2 separate regions of the Homo sapiens genome follow, and region 2 is linked to region 1. Evidence: fine-mapped expression QTL. Tissue or cell type: whole blood. Region 1 holds a variant in brackets; the other region holds the start of a gene. All regions are shown on one strand. Distances are between the middles of the regions.

Region 1 (2,752 bases):
AGAGGTAGACAGCACAAATGCTGAAGGAGCACCAAGGGGCCAGGTAAGGGAAGGGAGAGACTGGAGTACTGGGACAACCAAAGCCATCTCATGCAAGAACAAGTTTCTATTCCCAAACCACCCCCATCCCCATCAATGCTCAGCTCTCTTCCTGCCCCCATGCCTTCCCTCTGCTCAACAGAGAGCTGGAGGCAGGAGGGCGACTCAGTTTGCCAGACATGCTGCTGCAGGTCCCCAGACCCCAGGGAGGCTGGCAAGGGACACAAACACTTTGATGTTGCCACTCCTCCTCAAGGAATGCTCCTGCCCTCCCAACACCCCCAAGAAACACCTAGGCCGTGGACGCACAGAGCAAACTGCTTCATGTTCTAGGGGCCTATCTGGAGCTTCTGTCCAGGGCCTCTGACTGCAGCCCTCAACGGACATCAGTCGGGTAGCAGGCGACCCAGCTCCGCCTCATCCAGCCGGTTGGTGGCCATGATGTGCTCCAGCTGCTGCCGGTAGCGTGCCAAGTCCTGCATGAAGTGGGGCACCCGGGTATTATCCAGCACCCCATGGGGCCGCAGGTGGTCCACATCCTCATAGGACACCTGCAGGAGGAAGCCGGGCATCAGGCATAGGCAGTGGCCCCTGGCTTTCAGGTAGCTGGTCCCAGCCCACTGCTTACAGCTCACAGCCTTTGCTCCGGGACTTCTTCCTCTCCCCTCCTGATCCACAATTAGCTACAACGTTTTATACCTCTAGACTCAATCCTTCATCTTTGCCCTTTCTCTCAACAGTTTCTTTTTGTCATAGATGCCCTACAACCCCACTTCTCTCTCCAGCCCAGCCTCTCAGACCCTCACCTCCAAACATGGGCATCCAACTGCCTCCTTAATGTCTTCCCCTGGATAACCCTCAGGATGGCCCCATGTCCAAAAGTCAACTCCTGAGTGCCAGCTTATGCCAGCTCCACCCTCTTTACAGTCACCCAGGTCAGATTCCCGGGAGGGGGCTTGGACTCTCACCCTCCCATCAGGGTAGCCGCTGAGTTAAAAGTATTCCCCTCTCTGAAGAGCTCTCCAGCTTGTCCCTTCATCTCCAACCCAGCGGCCACTGCCTGGTTAGGCCAGACCACCATCCCTTCTGCAGGAGTGACAGGCAAGGCCTCCTCCGTGC[C/T]CCTGCACTCCCTTCCCTAGTCCTCTCTCCAATCCACCTCCCATATGATGTCCAGAAGGAGCCTTCTGAAGCAAATATCAGAGTCACTCCTCTGCTTAAAGCTCCTCTCACTCCCCGTTGCTTCAGATGAAATCTACTTTCCTCGGCCTGGCACAAATGCCAGTGCCAGGGAGTTGGTCCCTGGCCATTTCTGCAGCCTTCTTCCCCTGGCCTTCCTGATCACTCCCTTGGCCTGGAATGCTCATCTCCTTTGAGATGCAGTATCTACATACACCTGCAGCCTCCGTTAAGCACCTGGTTTTGCTGCCAGAGTCATTTCATCTCCTGTTCTCACTTCCACCCACGCTCCCCCCTACCACCACAGGCCTGACACCCAGCCCTCGGTCTAGCACCAATCCGAGGCTCAGGGAATTCTACAGCAAGGCAGGGAGCTGGCTGGGACCTCTGAAGGTCCACAGCCCCTCACCTTGCCCAGTGAGGTCAGCAACGGGAAATCGATGGTCTGGCGATGTCGCAGAATGCGCACGATGCCGTCCAGGTACACCTGGTCCTTGCTGAAACAACCTGGGAGGGCAGGAGGGCGGTGAGCCCCGCCCCTCGCCCGAAGCCCCGCCCCCACCCCGGCTCTAGGCACCTCCCCCGCGCTGGCGCACACCTGGCAGCGAGGTGTCGGTCTGGCCGCGCTTGGCGCGCACGCAGTACTCCCAGCGCACATCGGCGTCCTGCACGTAGCGCTCCAGGTCCTGGAAGAGCTGACGGAAGGACATGCGCGCGGCGCGGTGGATGGTGTAGTAGAGCAGTGCAGCGCGCCACAGGAACGGCTGCTTGCGGAACAGCACGCTGTGCAGGCTGGCCAGGCCCTCCTCCGTGGGGTTCGCCGGCCGCAGCCCGTACCGCAGCCGGCCCTCCGCGTTGTGCCACGGCTGGCGCGCGTTGTTCACGCCCCGCAGGTAGTGGGTGCCTGCGGGGAAGGCGAGGGGAGGCGGCGCTGGGCGGGGCGTTCGGGGACCCGCCTGCGAGCCCAGCCCTGGCCCTGTTCCATCTGGCCGGGGCTCTGGCCGCGACACTTCCATCCTCATGCTCCTGAACTCAGGCTCGCACACAGGCTCTCCCAGCCCCAGGCAGCGTGAAGCTCCTCCTCCTGTGGACTCGCACCCAAGGATCCACAGAGGCTCACATACATGAATCCTCTCCCACCCATCCGCCCCCCACCCTACACCCACGCACCCACACACGTGCACGAACTCTCCCAAACTGACATTGCCCCCAGCCCTCCTGGGCACAAGAATACATATACCACCCTGCCCAACATCCTGGGTGCCCATATCATCTTGAACAGTCATGCTGATGCCCCCGGTAAAAATCACTCTTGCCCAGAGCAACAGGATTCTCGAGGAAGAGGGACAGACAGATAGGAATAGTGGTTAGTGCCCTGCACCCCCCTGCCCAAACTGGCCAGTCCCCTCCTAAACCAGGTGCCATGTGTCCTCAAGTCAAGTCCATTCCCAGGACCTGGCCTTCCATCCACCCTGGAGGGCCAGCGTGGTGGCTGGCCTGGTGGGACCCTGAGGGTTCTTTCTCTGGCCGGTCAGGG
Region 2 (2,500 bases), 22 kb after region 1:
CTGTCTGACCTGGGGGTTGCCTGGGGACCTCTCCCACCCGACCCCTACAGAGCTTGAGAGCCACAGACGCCTGGCTTCTCCGGCCTCCCCTCACCGCACAGTTCTGGCCACAGCTCCCGCTCCTGTGCTGGCACTTCTGTGCTCGCAGAGCAGGGGAACAGGACTCAGCCCCCATCACCGTGGAGCCAAAGTGTTTGCTTCTCCCTTTCTGCGGCCTTCGCCAGCCCAGGCTCGGCTGCCACCCAGTGGCACAGAACCGAGGAGCTGCCATTACCCCCCATAGGGGGCAGTGTCTTGTTCCTGCCAGCCTCAGTGTCTTGCTTCTGCCAGCTCCTTCCCCTAGGAGGGAAGGGTGGGGTGGAACTGGGCACATGCCAGCACCACTTCTAGCTTCCTTCGCTATCCCCCACCCCCTGACCCTCCAGCTCCTCCTGGCCCTCTCACGTGCCCACTTCTGCTGGGCCTTTAGCCCTAGAACCTGCAGGTGGTGGGGGCGGCTACCAAGAAGGAACAGAGGTCTCTGGGGAGGAGTCTGGGTGGTCCAGCCCTGATGATTGGCCCCACCTCCTGCTGCCCCATAACCCTCTCTTCATTTCGGCTTTTTCATTTACCCTCATTTAGAGCCATTTGCAGAGATTTAGAAAGATTTACAGTAACGAATGGATTCCTATATAAAGATTATTTTTATACTTTTTGCAGCAAAAGGAAATTGTAATATTTGTACAGTGTTCAAGTGAATAAAAACCATGCCTAAGGCTAGCTCTGATGTGGTTCTTTGGGGACCCTCCTTGGGACTGTGCTGGACTGGCAGTGTGATTGGGTGGGTCACCTTGCTGGAACTAGGGGTGGGGCGGCCTCCGGCAGCCTGCCCTCCCCGCCCCCACCTGCCGCACCTTGGTGTGGGGCGGGGCCGCCTCGGCGGGGCGGGGCAGGCGGAGCCGTCCTACCTTCCTACCCCCAGACTCCAACCCGGAACTAACCTCGGCTCCCTTGGGAAGGCCGCGTTGCATGGCCAGGAGCAGCAGTCTGGGCCGCGAGTGCGGGACACCGAGGTCAGGTCTCGGAAAGGGAGGACCTCCTCGTCCCCAGGGGCCCCAGGCCAGGTGCACCCTTGGCCGCAGGTGCACGGTCTCCGGAAAGTGCAGGCGCCCACGTCCCAGCTGGACCATGGCGCCTCCGCGGAACGTGGTGAAGATTGCCATCAAGATGCGTGACGCCATCCCGCAGCTCATCCAGCTGGACCAGGTCACCCGGCTGGTCCCGCCTCCATCTGCCCCACTGCCCCACCTCCCGGTAGCCCCCTGGCCCTCGGGGCAGCCCGCCCCACCCCTCCCCCCAGGCTCCTCCCCATCCCTCCCTGCCCAGGCCGCGAGAATGACCACTCCACTTGCAGGCGAAGCCCCTGGCCGCTGTGCTGAAGGAGGTGTGCGACGCGTGAGTGCTGCCGGGCCAGGGCCTGCGGAGGGCGGGAGGGCAGGAGGGGCGGCGCCCCCTGCCGGCCTCGCTGAGCCTCGTGCCCCTCAGGTGGAGCCTGACGCACTCTGAGCGTTACGCCCTGCAGTTTGCGGATGGGCACCGGAGATACATCACCGAGAATGTGAGTCCCCTCTCCCCAGCCCCAAGCTCGGCCTTCCGACCCCTCTAACCCACCTGGCCCCGATAACTCTGGCTCTTCATCCCACTACCGGAGCGCGATCTGTTATTCACCCCCAGCCGCCCTCACCGACACCCCAGTTGATCAGTCCTCGGAGCCCTCCCTGACCTCGCTGCCTTTTCTGCTGTCTTCTCCAGAACCGCGCGGAGATCAAGAATGGCAGCATCCTGTGCCTCAGCACGGCCCCAGTAATGCCCCTCCCGTCCCGCCTTCCCCATCCCTGCCCCTTTGCTCCAGGTCCAGAGGCCCCCCGCCCCGGAGGCCCCCGCCCCAGCCCTGCCTTGCGCCACCTAGTTGACGCCCGGGGCCGCACACTTCCAGGTCCCACCCTTACCATGCCCAGCCTCTTCACCTCTGCTCCTGCTCCGTTCCTGCCAGGACCTTGAGGCTGAGCAGCTCTTGGGTGGGCTGCAGAGTAACAGTCCTGAAGGGCGCCGGGAAGCCCTGAGGCGCCTTGTTCCGCTGGCCTCGGACATGATCTTTGCCAGGGAGGTCATCAGCCGTAATGGGCTCCAGATACTAGGCACCATCATTGAAGATGGGGACGAGTGAGCACAGGGATGTGTGGGCTGGGGGAGATGGTGGGTCTTTCTGGTCCTGGGGTGGTCCTGCTCAGCCCCAGATGTCCCCCCTCCAGCCTAGGAGAGGTGCTGGCCCTCAGCCTGAGGGCCTTCTCAGAGCTCATGGAGCACGGCGTGGTGTCCTGGGAGACTCTGAGCATCCCCTTTGTGAGGAAGGTGGGTGGGCTTTCCTAGGGCAGCGGGTGGGGGCAGTGGAGCAGTGGGGCAGTGGTAGACCCGGTCTTCCATGGGGGTGAGGTGGTGACACCCCCGCCCCTTACAGGTG

The links. PIP is the estimated chance that this variant, and not a neighbour inherited with it, causes the effect.
Region 2: ELMO3 starts here. The variant in region 1 is fine-mapped to the expression of ELMO3 in whole blood (TOPMed, PIP above 0.99).

The regions. Positions count from the first base shown.
Region 1 is chr16:67,176,386-67,179,137 of GRCh38, forward strand. MATCAP1 (microtubule associated tyrosine carboxypeptidase 1) reads right to left here. Exons shown (of 7, transcript NM_001040715.2): 5 at 1,814-2,119; 6 at 1,625-1,722; 7 at 1-590. The coding sequence ends at 426. Among named protein-coding and RNA genes, the nearest start is that of MATCAP1, 6.2 kb to the right of the region's middle. RefSeq lists silencers at 1-2, 1,750-1,809, 2,080-2,239 and enhancers at 1,585-2,128, 2,129-2,670. The variant C/T (reference allele first, on the strand shown) is at 1,159.
Region 2 is chr16:67,198,160-67,200,659 of GRCh38, forward strand. It overlaps ELMO3 (engulfment and cell motility 3), which reads left to right and starts at 972. Exons shown (of 20, transcript NM_024712.5): 1 at 972-1,245; 2 at 1,394-1,434; 3 at 1,525-1,597; 4 at 1,792-1,842; 5 at 2,033-2,202; 6 at 2,292-2,391; 7 at 2,498-2,500. The coding sequence starts at 1,168. E2F4 (E2F transcription factor 4) reads left to right here. Exons shown (of 10, transcript NM_001950.4): 10 at 1-759. RefSeq lists a silencer at 308-367.